3 separate regions of the Homo sapiens genome follow, and all the other regions are linked to region 3. The links come from fine-mapping of genetic effects on gene expression. A gene starts in region 3. Each other region holds a variant in brackets. All regions are shown on one strand. Distances are between the middles of the regions.

What was found. PIP is the estimated chance that this variant, and not a neighbour inherited with it, causes the effect.
Region 1: its variant is fine-mapped to the expression of KTN1 in whole blood (TOPMed, PIP above 0.99).
Region 2: its variant is fine-mapped to the expression of KTN1 in whole blood (TOPMed, PIP above 0.99).

The regions. Positions count from the first base shown.
Region 1 is chr14:55,539,149-55,547,334 of GRCh38, forward strand. It overlaps the pseudogene RPL7AP4 and the pseudogene ABI1P1. Among named protein-coding and RNA genes, the nearest start is that of KTN1-AS1, 37 kb to the right of the region's middle. The variant T/C (reference allele first, on the strand shown) is at 4,452.
Region 2 is chr14:55,608,797-55,616,976 of GRCh38, forward strand. KTN1 (kinectin 1) reads left to right here. Exons shown (of 44, transcript NM_001079521.2): 2 at 3,223-3,775; 3 at 7,721-7,858. The coding sequence starts at 3,253. Among named protein-coding and RNA genes, the nearest start is that of KTN1, 33 kb to the left of the region's middle. The variant A/T (reference allele first, on the strand shown) is at 3,525.
Region 3 is chr14:55,575,965-55,584,149 of GRCh38, forward strand. It overlaps KTN1 (kinectin 1), which reads left to right and starts at 4,243. Exons shown (of 44, transcript NM_001079521.2): 1 at 4,243-4,390. KTN1-AS1 (KTN1 antisense RNA 1) reads right to left here and starts at 4,128. Exons shown (of 3, transcript NR_027123.1): 1 at 3,972-4,128; 2 at 2,642-2,773; 3 at 193-1,415. RefSeq lists enhancers at 3,468-3,587, 3,598-3,687 and silencers at 4,128-4,387, 4,448-5,087, 5,267-5,561.

The DNA of each region.
Region 1 (8,186 bases), 37 kb before region 3:
ATGTTGAAGTAACCCTTTTAGGCACTGCTGCCATGCAGGCTTGTTAATTAGAAGCAAGTTGAATGCTGGAGGATGATTACCAAAAATGATCGTTTGAGTTTTGAAATACTGTAAATACCATCTCTGAAACTTGTGTGGTCCAAAAACTTAAGCAGTACAAAATGCAGTCTTGTTATTTTGTGGTTAATAAAACTATTCAGAGTGCAAAATTACAACAAGGTAGAGTTGTTCATTGATTGCCCTGGATAATTTTAAGAGTTTGACTCTGCTATCCAGTCTATCCTGGTCCCTGCTGGAGTTTGATATCATATGGCAGCAGTTTATTGACATAAATATTTCTGGGGACAATTCTGGGTCCTGTGGCTGGCTGAGTCTTCTGGGACAGCAAAAATGATTCCAGGAATCTCTGGGTTAGTTGGCTCTCATCTCGATGGCTTAATCCAGAGACTGGGCCAAGAATATACTGTGGACTCAGGGACTCACTTCAAACTCTGCACTTCTTGAGATTGGAATTGTATGCATTTTCCCTCCCTGGCCTAGGCCTCATTTTCATATTCCTCTGCTGAAGATAATAATTTTCGCTGACTCTTGTTTGAGAATCAGGGTTGGGCAGATAATGGAAGCCAATTGACAATTGCCTTATATTTGAATTAATATAATTTCAGGTATGTCATCACTGTGGGTTTTGTTCGTTTGTTTTTATAGTAATTGGGATTAATTCATTATCTTTGACAAGTTGAAATCAGGCCAATTATCTGTTAGGCCAGTCGAAGTTTGAGAAGAAAAAACATGTTGTCATCTTAAAATGTAGTGATACTGAGCCTGCTTGTCCTCAGATATATTCCTCACTCTTCTCCTGCTCTGCAGGCCTGTTTCTCAGCACCTTGTACCAACTGAAATCTAGCTGAGTTTGACTAATGGGAGGCTGTTATAGCCAGAATAATGGTTCCTCAAAGATGTCCACACATTGCCTGGCAAAAGGGACTTTGTAGATGTGATTAAGGTTATGAGATGGAAAGATTATTGTGAATTAGCCATGTGGACTCACTCTAATCATATGAGCCCTTAAAACAGGAGAGAGTTCTCCGGCTGGGAGCAGGAGAGATAAGGCAGAGGGGAAGTCCGGGAAATTGGAAGCATGAGAAAGACTTGATCTGCCATTGCTGGCTCTGAAGATGAAGGGAGGCATGAACCAAGGAATGTGGGGGCAGCCTCTAGAGGTTGAAAGTCACTCCTATTTGACACTAAAGAAAGGAAACTGGGACCACAGTCTTACATTATCATGGAGCTGAATTTGCCAACAACCTGAAAGGGCTTGGAAGCAGATTCATACCTAGAGCCTTCAGAAAGGAGTGCAGCCCTGCCAACATCTTGATTTTGACCTTATGAGACTCTAAATAGGGGACCCAGGTGAGCCACACTGTACTGGGACTTCTGCTGTACATTTGTGACCCGTTGGGGTTGTAGTAATATTAGTTTTTCATATAGTCCCTCCAACCCAAGGGTCCTAAGAGCTTCCTGCTGTTGCTCTGCCCATCTGAGGTAACATCCATTCTCAGGTAGTCTTCTCAGGTAGTCTCAGATGCTGAGATCCAGTCTCAGCATCTTTTATCTCCTGTGTTATCAAGTCAGTGTAGTAAATTCCCTCTGCTTTAACTATTCTGAGTGGTTTCGATGTCCTAATTTGACCCTGTGTGACAATTATAGGATAATAGATATCTTGAAGTTTTTGGTGGTGTTGGAAGGGGGATGCAATCATTCATTCATTCAATAAACATTTATTGACAAGTCTATACTATATATCAGCAGTGAACAGGGAAGACAATCCTTGACTTCAATGAACTCTGCTCTTTAGTCAGGTAGGCAGAACTCTAATCAGGAATTGAAATAAAGCATTAGTATTGTGATAAGCGAAGAACAGAGGCCTATGAGAACATAGAGCAGGGAGTTCTTAAACTGATCTACGATCTAGAGAAGGATTCAATAAAGAGGAAATATTTAATGAGACTTGAAGATTGAGTAGGCTTATCCAGATCTTCCAAAAGTATAATTAATAAGGTGGGAAAGTGGGGTTGGTAGAGATTAAAACAACCCTGTTTTCTCCTGCTAGAACTTTAAATTGTTTTATTAAAAACAGTTTCTCTCAGTCCTGACTCTGTTGATAATATCAAGGTATTGGTTTTGAATAAACACTATGAGTCAGCAGGGTTACAGTAAACTCATAAGCTTAGTCAATGTCTGATTCTTGTCTGTGCAGAAGGAATGAATCAATAATGTGAAGGAAAGGTTAATACCATTTTCAAATATTATAAAGTTCTGTTGGATTGCCTAACCCAGCAGCCATTCTCAATTCCTTTCTTGCCTGCCCATCACATTTTCATTCAGAGGCTTCTTTTCCCAGCCTCTTGTAGCTGGGAGCATCCCTGAAACATAGGTCTGGTCAACCAGACTGAAGCAGGATTTGTTGAGGATTTTCTGTCTTCCTAGTGAAAAGGACAGACGGGGCTTATGCTGCTTTTCCTCTCTTCGTACCTTGAATTGAGATATAATGTCTGAAATCACAACAGCTATTTTGTGGTCACGAGGCAACAAATGCAAATTTAAAAGCCATTATGATAAAGCATGGTCTATAGTAGAAGAGTATTTCCCAAATCCTGTTTGCTCCTTATATAGAATCTAGCCTTAGAAGCCTTTGACTTGAGCTTTACTGAGGAAGAAACTGCATATGTCAAGCAGGAAAAACAAAAGCAAAAATGAGCCTTTTTCTTTACTATATAAGTAATATGTGTCAATTTTAGATAAATTACATATGATGTGTGAATTTTTAAAAAACCTAGATAGGACTTCTTGTTTCCCACCTGGCATATAAGAAGCTTAGAAGTTACCACGCTGGCCTTACAATAAGTAAAAAGCTGAACAAACTGAAAAATCGAGAACTCTTCTTAGATCTGTCAGAGAGTGAGATCACAGGGCAAACTGCTGCCTCAAAGATTGGAGAGAGACAGGCAGAAGCAGAATCACAACTTACTGGAGCAGAAACCTCTGCGGAACCAGTGACAGGATAACTGAACTGTAATTGATGAATTAATAGAGGCTCAGTGTGGGCAGCTCTCAGAGTTAAAAATTCCAGGGAGACCCAGTCAAGGTGGGGATGGGGGCACACTTTTGTGAGTTTTACTTCTGGGAACTCTACCAGCTCCTCACAATAAATATCGGATAATGTTATTGGATAATAAAGGAATAGGAACAATATTTGAAGCAATAATGACTGAGAATTTCCCCCAAATTAATGTCAGACACCAAACCACAGATCCAGGAAGCTCAAAATCAAGCAAGATAAATGCCAAAAACATTGCAACTATACATACGATATTAGATCATAAATATTGTGCTTCTGGCAGGGGGAGGGGAAAAAGAAACCATTTTGAAATACACCAGAGCGTTTTATTTTTCCTAACAAGGCCTGCCTCAGGAGAAACTATTTTACCAGAGCCCTACTTGCTGGGGCTTTATCACGGCCTAACCTACCTGGGGGAAGTGAAAGACCCAACTCCAGCCTCCTCTAGCTATCTTGTCTCACCTAAGAGGAAAAACACCTGAAAAGCACTTGTGAAGTTCACAGTGCAGGGGCACAGGCTCAACAAAAGACTGAGACCAGGCTGGGTGCAGTGGCTCACAACTGTAATCCTAGCACTTTGGGAGGCTGAGGCGGGCGGATCACCAGAGGTCAGGAGTTTGAGACCAGCCTGGCCAACGTGGTGAAACCCCGTCTCTACTAAAAATACAAAAATTAGACAGGCATGGTGGTGCATGCCTACAATCCCAGCCACTTGGGAGGCTGAGGCAGGAGAATTGCTTGAACCAGGGAGGCAGAGGTTGCAGTGAGCTGAGATTGCGCCACTGTACTCCAGCCTGGGCGACAGAGCAAGACTCTGTCTCAAAAAAAAAAAAGAAAGACAACAACAATAAAAACTGAGACCTAATCGTAGGACTATAGAACACTTCCTCCCCCTCCGCCCAGACACCTTACCACTGCATTACTAAAATCCTATTTACTTTACTTTTTTTTTTTAAAACTCAGTACACCATGTTCACCTTTAACAAAAGCTTAAAAGGCATACTAAAAGGCAAAAAATGCTGTTTGAAGAGACTGAATGAGCATCAGAACCAGACTCAGATATGACAGGAATGTTGGAATTATCTGACTAGGAATTTAAAAAACTATAATTGCTCTCTCCTCCTGCCACCCAAGATGCTGAAAAGAAGGCCAAGGGCAAAAAGGTGGCTCTGGCCTCTGCTGTCGTAAAGAAGCAGCAGGCCAAGAAAGTGGTGAATCCCTGTTTGAGAAAAAGCCTAAGAATTCTGGCATCGGACAGGACATCCGGCCTGAAAGCGAGCTCACTCGTTTTGTGAAATGGCCCCACTATATGAGGGCAGAGAGCCATTCTCTA[T/C]AAGCGGCTGAAAGTGCCTCTTGCGATTAACCAGTTTACCCAGGACCTGGAAGGCCAAACAGCTACTCAGCTGTTTAAGCTGGCCCAGAGACAAAGCAAGAGAAGCAGCAGAGGCTGTTGGCCCTGGCTGAGAAGAAAGCTCTGGGCAAAGGGGGCATCCCCACTAAGAGACCACCGGTCCTTCGAGCAGGAGTTAACACCGTCACCACCTTGGTGGAGAACAAGAAGGCTCAGCCCGTGGTGACTGCACAGGATGTCGAGCCCATCAAGCTGGTTGTCTTCCTGCCTGCCCTGTGCCATAAAATGGAGGTCCCTTACTGCGTTATCAAAAGGAAGGCAAGGCTGGGATGTCTAGTCCACAGGAAGACCTGCACCAATGCTGCTTTCACACAGGTTAACTCGGAAAACAAAGGGGCTTTGGCTAAGCTGGTGGAAGCTATCAGGACCAATTACAATGACAGATCTGATGAGATCTGCCGTCACTGGGGAGGCAAGGCCCTGGGTCCCAAGTCTGTGGCTCACATTGCCCATATGGAAAAGGCAAAGGCTAAAGAACTTGCCACCAAAGTGAGTTAAAGGTACACTGTTGAGTTTTCTGTATATAAAAATAATTAAAATAATACAAATTCTCCCAAAAAAACTATAATCGATAAGCTAAGGGTTTTAATGATAAAAGTAGACAACATGGAATAGACAAATAACATAAACAGAGAGATGAGTATTCTAAAAAAATGCTAGAGATATGAAAAGACTGTTACAGAAATGAAGAATGCCTTTGATGGGCTCATTAGAGACTGGATATGGCTAAGGAAAGAATCTCTGAGCTAGAGGATATGGCAATAGGAACTTGTAAAACTGAAAAGCAGAGAGAAAAAAGACTGAAAAATCAGAACACAATATTCAAAACTGTGGGACAACTACAGAAAGTATAGCATATACATAAATGGGAATACCAGAAGGATAAGAAAGGAACAGAAGCAATATTTGAAGCAATAAAGACTGAGAATTTCCCCAAATTAATGTCAGACACCAAAGCACAGATCCAGGAAGCTCAGAGAACATCAAGCAGGATAAATGCCAAAAAAAAAAAAAAAAAAAAAATTACAACTAAACATATTATATTCAAATTTCAGATGAAGACAAAGAAAAATTTGAAAAGAGCCAGAGAAACAATAATCTCCCTTTTGAGGAAGAAAGATAAGGATTACATATGACCTCTCCACAGTAACCATGCAAACAAGAAGAGAATGGAGTAAAATATTTAAAAGTACTAAGAGGAGGAAAAAAAATCCACCAACCGGCTGGGCGTGGTGGCTCATGCCTATAATCCCAGCACTTTGGGAGGCTGAGGCCGGTGGATCACCTGATGTCAGGAGTTCGAGACCAGCCTGGCCAACATGGTGAAACCCTGTCTCTACTAAAAATAAAAAACTTAGCTGGGCATGGTGGCGCATGCCTGTAATCCCAGCTACTCGGGAGGCTGAGGCAGGAGAATCACTTGAACCTGGGAGGCAGAGGTTGCAGTGAGAGATCATGCCACTGCTCTCCAGCCTGGCCCACAGAGCAAGACTTTGTCTCAAAAAAAAGAAAGAAAGAAAAGAAAAGAAAAGAAACCAACTTACATAATGATAAAAGGGTCAGTATTCCAAGAAGACATAATAATCCTTAATATGTATGCACCTAACTATAGGACATCAAAATACATAAAGTGAAAACTGATAGAATTGCAAGGAGAAATAGATGAACCCACTATTATAGTTGGAGATTTTAACACCCCTGTATCAGAAATGGACAAATACAGCAGACAGAAAATCAGTAAGTACATAGTTGAACTTAACAGCACCATCCATCAACAGGATATAGTTGGTATCTGTAGATTACTTCATCCAATAACAGGAGAAGATAGATTCTTCTCAAGATTCCATGGAACATTCACCAAGGCAGACCCATTTAATTTTTAACAAATTAAAAAGAATAAAAATCATACAATATCTCCTCTCAGACCACAATGAAATTAAACTTAGAAATCAATAACAGAAAGATATCTGGAAAATCCCCAAATACTTGGAGATTAAACACTTCGAAATAACACATAAGTCAAAAAAGAAATCTCAAGAAAAATTAAAAAATATTTTGAACTAAATGAAAGGAAAATACAACTTATCAAAATTTGTGGGATGCAGTGAAAGCAGTGCTTAGAAGGAAACTTATAGCATTAAATAAATATATTAGAAAAGAAGAAAAATCTACAATCAATCATCTAAGCTTCCACCTAAGTAAACTAGAAAAGGAAGAGCAAATTAAATTCGAAGTAAACAGAAGAAAAGAAATAATAAACATTTGAGCAGCAATCAATGAAACTGAAAACAGGAAGTCAATAGAGAAAGTCAATAAAATCAGTTTTTACAAAAAAGCTAGTTTTTTGTAAAGGTCAACAAAAGTAATAAGCCTCTAGCCAAGCTAAGAAAAATAGAGAGAGAACAAAAATGACTAATATCAGAAATGAAAAAGAGTACATGACTGCAGATCCCATAGATATTATTAATACATGGATGATAAAGGAATATTATGAACAGTTCTATATCCAGAAATTTGATAACCTAGATAAAAATGGACCAATTTCTTGAAAGACACTATCTGCCAAAACTCATGCAAGAAGAAATAGATGATCTGAATAGACTTGTGTCTACTACATAAATTGAATCAATAGTTAATAACCTTCCAAAACAGAAAGCCCAGATGGGTTCACTGGTAACTTTGCCAAACATTTAAGGAAGAAATTACATTAATTATTTACAGTCTCTTCTAGAAATAGAAGCAGAAGTAGTACTTCTTTACTCATTCTGTGAGGCCATAATTATCTTACTACCAAAATCAGACAAAGGCATTACAAGAAAACTACAGATATATCTCTCATGAACATAGATACAAAAATCCTCAACAAAATATTAACAAATTGACAATACCAGGTGGCAAGGTGGTTTGGATCCAGGCTATGAGGTGCTGGGAGCCTCAGTAGAACTTTCTGCCTCTGTTTCTTTAATGCAAGAGGAACCGATACAGAAGGGTGGAAAATGGCAGAGCTGCAGATGTTACTAGAGGAGATCCTGTCTCACAAGAGGGCACTGATAGAGAGTTACCAGAACCTGAACCAGGTGGCGAACTACTGTGAAGACAAGAGAAAAGCTTTAGAAGAGACCAAAGCCTACATAACCGGACCTCCAGTTAGTGTCACTTATCAAAAAACTACAGTGTCTAACAATGTACTCCAGTTGGTGAACATCCAAGCCTTTCAACTTTGAAGAATGGAGTCTTTCATCAATCATATCTCACAGATCATGGATATTAATAAAGAGAAAGTAGCTCGAAGAGATATTGGTATTTGGACAACAAATAAGACTACATCAAGAATTCACAAAATAATAGCGCCTGCAAATATGGAGCGTCTTATAAGGTATGTTTGGATACCTATTGCCTACACAGTTCTGAATGATGTGAACCATGGTGCCAAGCATGTAAATAACCAGCCTGCAAGAATTGGCACACTGCCAGCCAGGCGCAGTGGCTCACACCTGTAATCCCAGCACTTTGGGAGGCCAAGGTGGGTGGATCACCTGAGGTCAGGAGTTCACGACCAGCCTAGCCAATGTGGTGAAACCCTGTCTCTACTAAAAACACAAAAAATTAGCCAGGTGTGGTGGCGGGTGCCTGTAATCCCAGCTACTCGGGAGGCTG
Region 2 (8,180 bases), 33 kb after region 3:
TTTTTGAATTTTTAGTAGAGACGGGGTTTCACCATGTTGATCAGACTGCTCTCGAATTCCTGACCTCAAGTGATCCGCCTGCCTCGGCCTCCCAAAGTGCTGGGATTACAGGCATGAGCCACCATGCCCAGCCTGTGAACATCTTTCTATATGTTTTTTTCTTGCAAATAAATTCCTAGGGATAAAGAATTGGGATTGTTGGGTTAAAGGAATGCAAACATTTTCTTCTTTTTTATTCTTCTAAAAAAAAAAAAACAGGATACATGTGGAGAACGTGCAGGTTTATTACATAGGTATATGTGTGTCATGGTGGTTTGCTGCACCTACTGACCCATCCTGTACGTTCCCTCCTCTCAGCCCCCACCCGCAACAGGCCCTGGTGTGTGTTGTTCCCCTCTCTGTGTCCATATGTTCTCAGTGTTCCACTCCGACTTATGAGTGAGAACATGTGGTGTTTGGTGTTCTGTTCCTGTGGTAGTTTGCTGAGGATGATGGCTTCCACCTTCATCCATGTCCCTGCCGAGGACATGATCTCATTCCTTTTTATGGCTGCAGCAAACATTTTCTTGATTCTTCATCTCTTGGTGTCTAGTTAGGTTCCTCTAAATGCATAGTGAGACTCAGGTGAGCTCAAGTGAAGGTGAATTGAATTGTGTGAAGAGAGACTCCCGTGAAAATCCAGAGACAGAAAGCTTGATTCCTTCACGCCTATATATGGGACCTGGGAAAGGAAACTAGAAAATCATTAAAACATTTGAAGAATCAGTGTTTCAGAATTCTTGTGGTCTCATACCCTCTCTTCTTGAACATTTGCTACTTTTTCTTTCTATACAGGTGAATTTGCTGTGCTTGATCATAATTTCTGCTTTCCTAAAACCTAGGTTTGTACAGGGCTGCAGCTTATTCATTAGGCCTTTTTGACTTTTACCCCTTTTTTCAGCTTCTATTACTGCTGCTAAGTGCCTTAGCGTCTCTTCTTCACCAAAGCAAAAACTCGAAGCATTCCAACTCATTGTTTTGTGTTTTTTCTCCCTCGACTGCCCAGCTTTTGTTGAATAGGCTGTGTATTCTATGGATGCTATGTTTAAAAAAAAATTCTGGGCTCTTTTAAAGCATTCCTGGTTGACGAATCACACTTAATGGAGGCACAGTGAAATGTGTCTAATTTTAAAACCTGGATAGTTCATGTTAATTTGAATTATCAGGGAAACAATTCTGTATGGAGTTTCTTTTAGTATTTTGTTAGCACATGATTCCTTTTCCCCCTTAACTTGTTAAAACCTTGTCTTAGTAAATCTAGGGTATAACTAATACTATTAAAAAATTGCTTATGGAAGTATGAAATGTTACTTCAGTCATATAGATTAATAGCATGCCTGTTGAACAAACGACAGTCATTCCTTGGTATATGCAGGAGATTGGCTTCAGGACCCCTGTGTATACCTAAATCTAAGCATGCTGGAAGTCCTGGAGTACTGTGGAACCTGAGTATACAAAGTTGACCCTCCATATACTTGGGTTTCACGTCCAGCAAATACGTATTTTCAGTAACAATTGGTTAAAAAAAAAATTCATGTGTAAGTGTACCTGTGCAGTTCAAACCCGTGTTGTTACAGTTCTGGCAAAGTCTTATATTCAATAAACTCACATTTATCCAATTTAAAATCAGGTATTTTCTTAGGTGTAAAATAATTCTTAGAATAAGTTACCCGTTTAGGTAGAATTTGGTTTCTTTATCTAATCATGACATATCAAGACTCTCCAAATTGATAATTTAAAAACTTAAAAAATTCTCAGATTTATTTTTACATTAAAAGTGTAGCAATTAACTTTAATTTGCTTTATCCTAAACATGTCCTGATGTTTAATTATATCTGTATTATATACCTTGTCTTTTTCTACAACACATTTGAGATGAATAAGAATACAAGTCACTTTTATGTGGCTTATGCATGTTTGTAAGGAGCATCAATATCTAGAATCTCAACATCAGAATCATTTATACTTTGAGATTTAATTTTAGCAGAAACTACCCTTCACGTAAGTGATATGTATATTCAAGGCAGATGTTGGTAGTCAAATTACATCGCCACCCGCCCCCTTCCCGCCCCGGGCGTACTTACTGAGTCCATCTAAAAGTAGGGCTGATGTTCTGTTGATGAGGCAAAGCCTTTTATTTAGCAATTTCGGTAGGATGTTGATGGCAGCCTCGCTTTTGCTGTATAACTTGTTTTGTGCAGTATGGGGTGCCTTTAAAAAACTGAGATAAGTTCCTAACTTGTAATTTATTTCACTATTTTATTTTTTTGAGACAGAGACTTGCTCTGTTGCCCAGGCTTGGAGTGCAGTGGCAGAGTCACAGGTCACTGAAGCCTCGACTTCAAAGGCTCAGGTGATCCTCTCACCTCAGCCTGCAAGTAGCTGGGACTACAGGCTCACTTAACTACGCCCAGCTAATTTTCTTGTCTTTTTTTTTTTTTTTTTTTGTAAAGGCAGGGTTTCGCCATGTTGCCCAGGGTAGACTGGAACTCCTAGGCTCAAGTGATCCGTCTGCCTCAGCCTCCTAAAGTGGTGGGATTCAGGCATGAGCCACTGCGCTTGGTCTGTAATTTATTTTAATGCAAAATGCCACATCCTAACATTTCAATTTTAATTTTATTAGATTTTTATATCCTTGATAGATCCCACTGCATCATGAGGCTGATAGTCACTGGTGTAAAGATGCAAGCAGTTGGTGACTGGTCTTAATCTGTAAATAAACCACCTCTTTTTGCGTGTGTGTGCATTTCAGAATATGACACTTTTAATGAATGTCCATTGAGTTGGTAATAGTACCTCCTTATTTTCACGTGTAGTAGTTATCAACACTGTACAATAAACAAAAAAGTTAACTACTAATAAAGTACCAAAAGTGGATATTTCGGGAAAAGAAAGTAATGAATATTTAAATTTTTTCTCTTCAATTAGGATATTTTCACATGATTTAGAAATGGAAGGATGTTTTCTACTCCTTCTAGTTACCACTTGTCTTATTTTTCATAGTATATATGAATTGTAGTTGGCAAATAAATCAAGAATGTGATTTAAAGAACTAACCTGTTTAGATTTGTAGGTCAGGTTAGATTTGAAATGCCACTTGAAAGAGCAGCAGTTTTGACTTTAATTTTTATGAGACTGACAGGTTCTTTTTTTTTTTTTGTCCCCACCTTCTTCCCTATTTAGGTTTTATAGGATCACATTGACAAAAGTACCATGGAGTTTTATGAGTCAGCATATTTTATTGTTCTTATTCCTTCAATAGTTATTACAGTAATTTTCCTCTTCTTCTGGCTTTTCATGAAAGAAACATTATATGATGAAGTTCTTGCAAAACAGAAAAGAGAACAAAAGCTTATTCCTACCAAAACAGATAAAAAGAAAGCAGAAAAGAAAAAGAATAAAAAGAAAGAAATCCAGAATGGAAACCTCCATGAATCCGACTCTGAGAGTGTACCTCGAGACTTTAAATTATCAGATGCTTTGGC[A/T]GTAGAAGATGATCAAGTTGCACCTGTTCCATTGAATGTCGTTGAAACTTCAAGTAGTGTTAGGGAAAGAAAAAAGAAGGAAAAGAAACAAAAGCCTGTGCTTGAAGAGCAGGTCATCAAAGAAAGTGACGCATCAAAGATTCCTGGCAAAAAAGTAGAACCTGTCCCAGTTACTAAACAGCCCACCCCTCCCTCTGAAGCAGCTGCCTCGAAGAAGAAACCAGGGCAGAAGAAGTCTAAAAATGGAAGCGGTATTGTAATCTATTTAATCTATTTAATTTTATTGTATGATTTGGAGCTTGGAATTGAGATATTCTGTTAGGTACATACACAGAATGTTTAATATTGAATTTGAAACCATGATTATTCATTTCATTATGTGTTTGCTTCATTAACATTAATTGCTGGTAGAAATTAGTATTGATCATAAAATAGCACTTTAAACTTCAGGGCCTGATGCAGTGGCTCATGCCTGTAATCCTAGCACATTGGGAGGCTGAAGTGGGAGGACCCCTTGAGCCCAGGTGTTTGAGACCAGCCTGGGCAACAAAGTGAGACCTCATCTCTACAAGAAATTAAAAGAAAAAAAAAAAACCCCATACATCTTATAAATATCCAACTTTGGCTATTTTACTTAAAACCACTTAGGACCTGTAAATATCAGCAGTTACGAACTTTCTAAATGATATGGTAAGAATTAAAGGTGAAAAGCTAAAATCAGATATCATTTCTCACCCTTGATTGCTTCATTTTGCTAACATTTATCATATATCTGTTTTATGCTAGGCATTATGCTAGGTATTAGGGCTACAGAGATGAATAGTGCGTTTTCGAGGTAGTCGTGTGCTAGCTGTAGACACAGATAGGTCATTATGAAAGATTTAGTGTAATGGTCTAGATATGTCTAAACCAGTGTAGGAATTCTAAGGTAGACCACTTAAAGCAAGTAATGCCAGAAATTTTTAAAGTTTGGTTAAGTACTAGTTAGGTTTTTTGGGTGGATGGGGAGGGGAGGGAGATTCCAGGGAAAGGGGGTTGATAGGTACAATGGAAAAGCCTTGAAAATTGGCGTGGCGATGTGTGAAACTGTAAACAGTTTGTTTTATTTGAAAGGACTTGTATGTACCATTAAGTCATTTGTGTGTCTTAACTTGTAGGAGGTTATATTTGATTTTTTTTTTTTTTTTTTTGAGATGGGAGTCTCACACTCTCACCCAGGCTGGAGTGCAGTGGTGCGATCTTGGCTCAGTGTGTCCTCTGCTGCCCAAGTTCAAGTGATTCTCCTGCCTCAGCCTCCCGAGTAGCTGGAATTATAGGCGTGTATTTTTAGTAGAGATGGGGTTTCACAATATTGGCCAGAGTGGTCTCGAACTCCTGACCTCAAATGATCCGCCTGCCTTGGCCTCACAAAGTGCTGAAATTACAGGCGTGAGCCACCACGCTTGACCCGGTTGTATTGGATTTTAAATATTTGCATGTCAGCTAGGATCAAGGCATAGTAAGAACTACATGTTTTAGTTGGGGAAAAGGACACGTAAGCCAGTAAAAAAAATGTGGTTTATGTAGGAGATAGAGAAAGTATAGAGGAAATATAGAAGCTAAAGCAACTACTGCTTATGCTGGGCTGAAAGGCTTTACAGGGGAGGCAGTTCCTGAGCATTGAATCGCTTCATCAAGCAGATAGTGGGGTCTCATTACTCATTGGCAGAATATCATGTAAAGGCACAGAGCTGCAAGAGTACAGTGTATTATTGAGCCATACAACGTGAGGTATAGAGAGTGGTAGGGAACAGAGCTGAAAAGATAGCAGTGGCTAGATCATGGTGGTTTTTGGATACTGTGCCAGGGAGCTAGGACTTCTTAGGTTAGCCATTGTTGAAGATTTTCAAGCAGTTTAGTTACATGGTCATATTTCTGTTTTAGAAAGATTTTTTTGGCAGAGCTAGCAAGAACAGATTTCATGGGGCAGTATTTGATGCCGGCAGACTAGTTAAGAGGTTATTTTAGTTTTCTAAAATTAAGATGTAGGCCTGAACTATGGTAGTGACAGAAGAAACAAAGTTGAGAAGTATGCAAAGTAAGAATGACACGAATAACCTCACTATATAGAGGTGTGGCAGATAAAGGAGAAGATAGGATTAAAGCTGATCTCCCAAGTTCTGAGTTAGGTTGGGGTTGGCAAACTGCAACCTGTGAGCCGCATGTAGCCCACTTCCTTTTTTTATGCCCATGAACCAAGAACACTTTTTGCATTTTAAATGGTTGGGAAATAGAATAATATTTTGAGAAATGTAAAAATGTAAAAAAAAGTCAAAATCTCAGTACTCATAAAGTGTTTTTATATGCAGCTACATTCATTCACTCATTCATAATATGTTTATGACTGGCTTTCATGCTGCAGTGGCAGACTTGAATAGTTGTACCAGAGACCATATGTCCTATAAGGTCTAAAGTTTTTACTACGTGGCCCTTTGCAGAAAAAGTTTGCCAACTTGTGCTTGGCAGATGGTTGGTAGCACTAAAATAGGTAATACTGGAGAGAGACTAGATGTGAATTGAGAAGAGAACACTTCCAGTTTGTGTTTCCAATGCCTGTGGGGCCATCTACGTAGAGCAACTCAGGATGCAGTAGGGTATGTAAATGTAGAAAAGTAGATTCAGAAGCCTTAAGCGTGAAGGTAGTAGAAGGCATGGGAGTAGATAGCTCATCCAAGGGAAGTATTTTAATTGAAGCCCCAACCCTGAGAACAAGCAGTATTCAGTAGAAGCAGTTCCCAAAGGATACCGCAAAGGAATATTTCAAGTGTAAGAAGAGAATTATCATGGGAACTGATAGGAGATAATTTATTTTATTTATTTTTATTGTGGCAAATTACAGCATGAAATTTACTATTTTAACAACTTTTAAGTGTGTAGTTTTGTGGTGGTAAGTACATTCACATTCTTATATAATCATCACCACTAGCCAAGTCCAGAACTCTTTCATCTTTTCCAAATGAAACTCTGTACGCATTATACACTAATTCCCCATTCTGCCTGCCTCCCCCTTTTCCCCCGTCCCTCCCCCTTCCCCCATATCTTGACAATTACCCTTCTACTTTCTGTCTTTATGAATTTGACTACTCTGGGAATGTCATATAAGTGAAATTATACGATATTTATCTTTTTGTCACTGCCATATTTTACTTAGCATAATGGAGAGGAGATAATTTTAAGAAAGGGGTAGAGACCAAAAGTATAAAATGCCAAAGAGTAGTCAAATAAGGAGTAATGAGTATTTGTAGAATATGGCATTTGGGACACTGGGGGATCTGAGTTAATCCTTTCGTGGAATGAAAGAGATAAAAATCAGGTTGCAATTAGCTGAGGAATGATTGGTAGAAAAGGAACTAAGAGTATTTTGTCAATATGTAAGGAAATGGATGTGGGATGCTGGGAATTATGGTGATGGGGAAGGGTTTTCTCTTCCTTCCCTTCCCTTCCTTCTTTTCCTTCCTTTCCTTCCCTTCCCTTCCTTCTTTTCCTTCCTTTCCTTCCCTTTCTTTCTTCCTTTTCTTCTTTCTTTCTCTCTTTCTCTCTCTCTTTTCTTTCTTCTTTCTTTCCTTTTTCTTTCGACAGGGTCTTGCTCTGTTGCTGAGGCTCGAGTGAATGGTGTGATCTTGGCTCACTGCACCTTCGACCTCCGGGGCTCAAGCTATCCTCCCACCTCAGCCCCAGAGTAGCTGGAACTACAGGTGTGCGCCACCACACCTGGCTAATTTTTTTTATTTTTTTCGTAGAGATGGAGTTTTGTAGAGATGAGGTTTCACCACTTTGCCCAGGTTGGTCTGGAACTCCTGGGTTCAAGTGATACTCCTGGGTTCAAGTGATCCACCTGCCTCAGCCTCCCAAAGTGCTGGGATTACAGGTGTGAGCAGCTGCACCTTGCTGTTTATTTTTTAAGATGATAGAGACTTGATCATGCCTATAGGCTCAGTAGGGTTGAAAATAGCTGAGGAATGGGAAAGGAGGAGTAAGTACATTGAAGAGCTGGTGTAGTGGAGTAAGAAAGCTAGAAAAAGTTATTGGTGAGAGCGTTATATGTCAGACTTTAAATTTTTAGTGGTAAAACATTCTGGGAATTACTCAGTGATTGCATCTTTTCCGTTATGTTCATTGTTTGCCACAATTATTTTTTTTGTTTGTGTTTAATAAAGATGACCAGGATAAAAAGGTGGAAACTCTCATGGTACCATCAAAAAGGCAAGAAGCATTGCCCCTCCACCAAGAGACTAAACAAGAAAGTGGATCAGGGAAGAAGAAAGCTTCATCAAAGAAACAAAAGACAGAAAATGGTGAGATGTTTAGATATGTATTTTTATAATGCTAATTCTAGAGAAGTACACCAGCACAAGGACCCTGGAATCTCACACGCTCTTTAGCTCCCAGTTTAATGTGTGCTAATGACAACTGTAATACTAATGCAGGTCTAAAATTATCTTTAGCCTTATGACTTTATAGCGCTTTGACAGATGGGCAGGGTGTACATTTGAGATGAAAAAGTTTATATACCATTTACAAAGGGCAAAGCATTTATAAATATTCTTAACTCAGTTTTGAAAAAATAAATAGCATACAGACCATAGAAGAAAAACATTCTTGAAATTTTGTGCTTTT
Region 3 (8,185 bases):
AAGTGGCTTGGATTTTTTCTTTCAATTGCCAGGTGTACTTGGACAAAAATGTACACATTTCAATGCTACATTCTTTCTGTTAGAAAAATTTACATGAAACTGGTTGATAGCCAGTATAATATTGCTGATTTAAAGTTACATATCTATTATTATGCAAGTGACAAAAAACATATCATAAGCAAAAATTGCGTATAAATGAAAATTCACATTTTAATAGTTTGTATACCTGAAGATTTACACCTTGGGAGTCAACATGGTATTGGGGCACGTACATGGGAATCGGAGTCAAAGAGCTCTAGGGTCAAGTAGCAGTTTGTGAGCCTTGTGTCTTTGCACTAGTTAGTTACCCGTGTGAGCCTGATACTACAATATGGGGTTGTTTCGAAGACCACATGAGCTAAGATACGTTAAATACCTGGCACAGTGCATATGCACAAATACTAGTTTCTCTGTCCTCATTTAATCCATTAATTTCCAATTCACTGGCAGCCTTTGAGGATGGGAGACATTAAGGTGGTTTTAATCATGTTAAGTAATGTTACATAATAGCTTTACCTCTCTACCTACTTCTGCCCAAATTTCCCTTGAAAGGCTCCAGGGATGTCTTGAGACTGTATGAACAAAGTAGAAACTTCCTTCTGCTTGAATAAGATTTCTTGCAGCTATTTAAAAGACTGGAAGAAGGCTGTTCCATTTATCTATTACATGACGAATTATAAAAAATTACAAAAATTATTTTATTTGTATGGGGTCAGAATTCTGTGGGGTCAGAAACTCAGGCAGTGCTTGGTTAAGTGATATTTTTGCTCCACATGGTATTAACTGGGGTCGCTTGGTGGCATTTAGCTTGTAGCATGGATGGTCTGGAGTTCAAGAAGGCTTCATTTATATTTCTGTCATCTTGATGGGGACAGTTGGAAGATGGTGCAGCTGAGCCCCTCTCCCACCCAATGTAGTCTCAGGGCCTCTCTACATGGTTTTTCCAGCAGGGTAGATGAACTTTTTACATGGATCTAAGAGACAGTGAGTGGAACTGCCTGTCTCGTATAGCCTGGACCCAGAAGTTGGCAAAGCGTCACTTCTGCCATATTCATTGGTCACAGCAGTCACAGAACCCTCCCAAATTCAAGAGGGAGGTCTACAGATCCCACCTTTCACGCAATGAGTGGCAGATAATTTTCAGTCATCTTTAATCTGTTATGACAGCACATGCTTGAAGACACAGGTCAAAAGAGCACAGTGCAGACCTTTATGAAGCACCTTTCTGTGACAGATACTTTGCTAGAATAGCTAATGACTTCTAGATCTGCAGCTGAAGAAGTTTCGATGAACCTTCCGTCTCCATTACTTGGGTGAAAGTGGACCTGGAATCCTCCAGCTGCTTCCATTATACTTTCATTTCTGCTATCCCTGATCTTGTGGAGTCAAGAGATATAATCTGTTACTCACGCATTACTCAAATCTCTACACAAGTCACCACTTATGGGAAAACTACCCTAGTCAAAACAGGAATAGCCAGCTTGTTCTCCATCTGCAGGGCAGGCATGTATTATTTGTCTTTAAAACTTTCCCCAAACTCAGAAAAAAGAGTTGTTACACGCAAAAAATTCAGAAGACAGTCTTCAGTAAATTGCAATTTTGTTAAATTAAAAAAAAATAGGATGTGTGCTCTTTAGGTAACAGTGTTTAGACTTTATAGTTTTCAATAAAATTTAATTTCTTAGTTGTTGCAACTAGAGGTACCTCAGATGCTGGGTGTGTTGCTAATCCTTTTTAACAAGTTAGTTGTTGGTTTCAGTGACACTGGAGGGTAGTAAATAGCAGCCAAAGTTAATTATATCGTAGGTTAATTATATGTGTTAACTATAGCTAATTATATTATACTACACTTTAAAACCTAGAGGGTTGGTGTTAATTCATAATAGGGCTTGCCTATTATGCATAACACTAGAGAAGCATAGCATTTCTAGTGAATCTTTTTTTTTTTTAAGACAGAGTCTTGCTCTGTTGCCCAGGCTGGAGTGCAGTGGCACCATCTTGGCTCACTGCAACCTCTGCCTCCTGGGTTCAAGCGATCCTCCTGCTCAGCCTCCCCAGTAGCTGGGATTATAGGCACCTGCCACCATGCCCAGCTAAGTTTTGTATTTTTAGTAGAGCTGGGGTTTCACCATGTTGGCCATGGTGGTCTCGAACTCCCGACCTCAGGTGATCCACCCAGCTCGGCCTCCCAAAGTGCTGGGATTACAGGTGTCAGCCACTGCGCCCGGCCTCTAGTAAATCTTTTTGTTTTGATGTGAATAAATAGAAAGCTTATAAAAAATAAAGCATTCAACCACTTCCCTTTCTATAGTCAAAGTTCAAACGCCAGAAAAGCCGAAATAGGTGATACAAAGTCATCCTTTAGTATAAGCAGTAGTATGTTTTGAGAAAATCCTAAACTCCACTCATTGTCTTACTTACAAGTGCACCGAAATATTATTGCCTGTAAATGACATTGCGGTTTTACTGGTCAGGAAAATGAATGATATAAATTTTTAATTCTAACCTAAAACCTGCGTTAGTACTAACCTGAGGAAATAACATGGTTGTTTGTAAGCTAATCAAGAGCCCTTAAACTCCATTACATAAATGATACACTTACCCTTTGTATTAAGGGACTAACGGCTTCGCTTTTCAACAAAGCTGGATCTTCTGGCACACGCTCAGAAGATAGCCAGTACTTCAGAGACAGATTGCTTTGAGGGCACTGGAACCGCTGAGGGGCAGAGTAATCCTAATGAGAAAGAAAAAAGAGGACGCCTCTGGAGTTAAAATAAGACAATGCATCTGTGGAGAACACGGTGACTGAAGACTGGCAGAATTCTCAATATCTCAGGCCACTATACACTGCGCAGTTTTCATTTGTATTTTGGAGGTGCTCTAGAAAACTTAGAAATGATTAGAATAAAAAGTATGGATACTTTTAACCAGCCCATGTACAGGAAATTCTGTTGGTGTAGAAACGGTTCTGCTGTTCATTCCTTAACTGCTTCTGTTCCCACTTTGTCAGATGTAGGGCGAGGTGGTGGTGGTGAGTCCTAATTTTTTCTATCTCTATCCACAGTCTGGAATCGTTAGGATTATTTTAAGCCTTCATAACATTTGCGGACAGCTTGGAGTGTTTTGTACATGTAGTGGGGCAGTGCCTGGCCTCCTGTGAGAGATTGATCATCGGTAAACAATCCACACGAAACTCACTTGCCAGTGGACGGGGAGGATCGCTGCCATCCTTTCAGCAAAGAGCAAACGAATAAGGAGAGATCCGGGCCCATCCCTCCTCGCGCAGCAGTTTCTAGATTTTTACCCCGGCTTCATAAATGGCTACCAGCTGGCAGTCACAACACTTTCATAATGTTTGCACACAACTCATTTGGGTCGCTTTCTTTTCTTTCCTTTTTTTTTTTTTTTTTTTGAGAGAAACGGAGAGTCTTACTCTCTCGCCCAGGCTGGAGTGCAGTGGCGAGATCTCGGCTCACTGCAACCTCCGCCTCCTAGATTCCTGCGATTCTCCTGTCTCAGCTTCCCAAGTAGCTGGGGCTACAGGCGTGCGCCACTATGCCCAGCTAATTTTTTGTACTTTTTTTGGCAGAGACGGGTTTTACTATATGTTGGCCAGGCTGGTCTCGAACTCCTGACCTCAGGTGATCCGCCTGCCTTGGCCTCCCAAAGTACTGGGGTTACAGGCGTGAACCACCGCGCCCGACCATTATTTGGGTCGCTTTCTAATTTCTTTCTCCGTTTGTAGCTAGCGTTGCCCGAAGGAGATTTCAGAGAGATCCCCTGGAGAAAGGGACGGGGGATGTCGTTTTCCAGTAATTTCTGGGGGAAATCTGGGATAGTCAGGGGGTAAATCTAGTGCCGTTTGCTGAAGTTAAAAGGCGTGGGGAGCCAGGTGGTGCCCTGGAGGGAGGGCCGCGCGAGACGAGACCAACCTTCGGGACAGGGGAGAGCGGGGCTACTGAACGCAGGGGATTCCGCTGAGCCTCCAGCCCCTGAGCGTCCACCTTCGGCCCAGCTGGGGGACGCGGTCTCGGGAAGAAAGCCCGGAATCCCGAGCCGGCCAGCCGCGAGCAGCGAGTACCGGAGCGCGTGGGCAGGCGCGCGGAGGCAGAGGCGGGCCGGCGGCTGTCCCTTTAAGGGGCCGGTCTCCCGGCGCCGCCGGCCCAGACGCCAGGACGTGCCGGGTCCGCCCCGCCCCGCCCCGAAGCCGCCCGTTTCCTGCCGAGCGGCGCGACGGCACCTGAGCGACTGCGGCGGCGGCGGCGGCGGCGGCGGCGCCTCGGAGCGGGCGGCCCGGGCTGTAGTGCCGGCGCCGCCGCGTCTTCCCGGTCTCCTTTCCCGGCCGCACAGGGTGAGGGAGAGCAGGCCGCACCGGGACGGGCGCCGGCGGCGGGGAGCGCGGGGGGAGGCGGCGCCGGCCGCGGGGTCCTGGGGCAGGCGGGAGGGCCGCGCCGGGCGGGGGGGCGCGGCCGCGGGGCCCGGACGCCGCCCGCTGGGTAGGCCTCGGGCATCCGGTTGCCGCCGCGGGGCTCTTGTTGGGGCCGGGACGCCGCAGGGGGCGGGCTCGGAGGGACCTCCTCGGCCTCGCGGGGCCGCTCTGGGCCCGACCCCGGCTCTGTCGCGGCACCCGGGGCGCGGCCGAGGGACACCCCCCACCCTCCCCAAGGACGACTCTCCCGAAGGCGAGGTCGACCCGAGCGGGCCCTGGGGTGACCGAGGCACCTATTTTTAGCCAAGCCTGAGGGCCCCCGGGAGGGAAGGCGGATTACCGCCTCCTCGGCCGGTGGACGGAGGCAGCGCGTCTCCGGCGGCGTCCCCGGGCCGGAGCTGGGCCACACTTACGCCATGCTGGAGTTCCAGTCCTCGCCGCTGCCTCCGGCGGTCTGGGCGCTCGCCCCCTTCCCCGGCGCCCCTCCCGCTGCCCTTTGCGAGTCCCCAGGTCAGGGCGGGAGGCGGTTGGGCACGGAAAGCAGCATGAGGGGGGACTTTGGAAAAATCCATGGACCACTCTCGACACCGGCGAAGTTATCCCTTCCTGTCCCCGAGGGGTGTGTCCTAGCGATTCGGCCTGACCCCTTCAGTTTCCAAAAGTGAGATTTTTGGCCTTGGGGACCTCGCCGGAAAACTACGCGGGAAGTCTAGAGAAGTCGTCTGGCTCTCAGCCATACGTCTGGTGTGGGATGTGCAGCCCCGCATGCTGGCGGTGAAGGCGCTGGGTGCACTAGATGTGGGCAGCCCCGGACGCGGGCAGCGGCGTCCCAGCCGGCCCCAGTTGCACCTTGACTAGGTTAGGTTGAAAGTAAGCTGTTCAGTGTTGGCCCTTCTTTCCTGTGGGAGGAAGGAGGAATCTAAATTCAGAACTGTGTTGGCAAACGGATTCCTTAGCCGCTATTTAAGTTAGTAGTGCTTAAAGAGCTACGGTTGAAGTTAACTGTTAAGGTGTGTGTGTGTGTGTGAGTGTGTGTGTGTGATGACTTTGTGGAAAGCCTTGAGTAAAGAGCTACGGTTGAAGTTAACTGTTAAGGTGTGTGTGTGTGTGATGACTTTGTGGAAAGCCTTGAGAAATGTAGACACTCATGGCCAGCCCAGCTAAAGATAAGCATCTTCGGTGAACTAAAGGTTCTGAATTGTATAGGAGTTGACTTAAAGTTAGAATTTTTGCTAAATTAGGTTGCATTTGTTTTCCTTAGCTTACCTAGCAGGCTAATGGCAACAGTGTCTCCAGTTTGGTCCGAAGCAATTGCTGGTGAGACTTGGGATAATGATCCCAAGCTGGTGAGACTTGGGATAATGATCCCAAGAATAACACTAAATTACTCTTGAGTATTTTGGGTAGACATGCCTTGCAGTAGACTTTCATATTTGATGTGCTGCCTGATAAAAAAGGCTCTTTTTTTTTTTCCTTTTTCCTTTTTTTTTAGTTTAAGGATCTAACCTGAAATAGCTGGGTCTGTTCATGAGTTTCCCTCCCACCCCAACATTGAGTTTCAAATGTCTCTTCTAATTTTGTAGCCTTCATCAGACATAACAATACCTTATCAAGTGAGCTTAGAGAATAAGGTGTTCTACTTGATTTACTTGAGGCTGATAATGAATTTGAAAATATAACAAGATCTATTGAAAAATTTTCTTAATACTTGAAAATTATAAAGAATATCAAGTATTTAACTCTTAATGATTCAGCGTCAGCATTATGAAGAGACATTTACGATTTTGTTTCCAATTTAGATCTTTCTGTATTCTTTTAATACCAGTAGTCTCTTCTGTTTGATGTTGTGTTTGTCCCTAAAAATGCCTCACTTCAGTCTCCCTTCTAGTTTATAGGCTTTAATCTGCTTTTGGTAGGGAGATCGTTTTAATAATTATATTTTTAATATCAGTCAATATGGCTTTTTAAAAGAGCCTAAGACGTGAAAACCTTTTTGAGACTTCTAAAGAACCCATATTAAGATTGTCACTGTTCTTAAGTTCTTAACTTGAATGTTAAGTTATGGTTAAAAGTTCTTAATCAGCCTGTCATGGTTAAGATGACACGTAGAATACTGAATCATAATTGTTTTTTTAAAAGTTGAATGTGTCTTATACATTTCCTATGTGTAAGTTAATTTCTTAACTTGAATGGAACATGTGTTTTTAATTGTATGCCTATAATTTTTATAGCAAATGAAGTTTTAACCTGAAAGATCTCCAATACTTTGTTAAAATATTAAATTGTTAATGAACTTAAGTGGTTCTAGGAAGGTTTTGGTTCTCTTGGGAATCTGACCTAATATGTAATAAGGAAATGAGAAAAATCGTGCTTTGCAAGATCGTTCATATATTTGAGAATACACCTTATGACCTGCTTGTTCTCTGTACTGTTTTTAGTGACTTTGAAGGTAAATCCAGAGTATACTTAGAGGATACAAGCAAGTAACTATTTCTCTAGAAGTGACATTGGTGATCACTCATGCTCAAAGAGAATTGCATTTCATTGCTTCCTCTTTCAGTTCCTGTGAACATGACTTTGTCCCAATCAAAAAATGTAATTTATTTTCAAATCACTGGGAAAATATTGGTCTAGATGAGAATATAAGCCTTTTTCCCTCCTCTATAAATAGAAAATTAAACATTAAGGGGAAGAACCTTATGTGCTGTGAACTAAGGGGTTTAATTTAACCTTCTGTATCTGAGGTCTAGAGAAAGAGAAATAATGACAGTTTACAACTGTGTGCCGAGCTGTTGTGCTTAAATGTGTTTTTGACAGAGGTGGCAGTGAAAACTAGGCTATTTTTCTTTTTTAAAAAATGGTACAAGCTTTTAATTGGTTTTATGTAAAAGAAAATAGGCAAGATATACTTTTAATTCTAACAATAGTTTTAGTAGATACTCTGATAGGAAATATAATATTCCTCGGAAATGTAGAAGACATACCCTAAAAAAAGTTATGATTTAGTATTTTACGAATCGTCCTAGCTACTACAGGGAGATTAAGAACTCTTCCGTAACTTAAATCTGGTTTCAGCAAAGTGATTTGTACACTAAATGTAATTTGTTTGCACTCTTCTTCCAGGACATTCTGCTTTTTGGGCTTTCTCCTTCCTAATTGCTTTGTTCATTCTATCTTACATCTTCTACTCTTAAACTTGACATGCTCAGTCCTTGTTTCACTTTTCTTTTTATATTCCTCTGACAATCTTATCCAGTGTCATGGTTTTAAATACCTATATGCTGATGGCTCCCATATTTATATCTCCAACCCAGACTTTCCACATGTGCTGTTAGGCCTATCCACTTGGATGTGCAGTAGTCAACTCCAACTAAATTTCCGTATTTTTCCTCAAACATGTTTGATGTTTGATGTTTCCATCAAACATTCAGGTAAAAAAACGTTGGAGTCATCCCTGACTTATTTCTTTCACACTTGGCATTCTGTGCTCTGTCTTATCTTGAAAATATAACCAGAATCCAATCAGTACTTACTGCTTCCACTGCTCACCAGCCTGGTGCAAGCCATTCTTATCTCTTACCTAGATTTCTGCAATTAGCCTCCTAACTGATCTCCCTGCCTCTGCCCTAACTCCCTGCAGTCTTTCCAACACAACAACTGGATCATATTACTTATCTTCTCAGAATGCTACAGTGACTTTCTCTATGCACAGTGAAA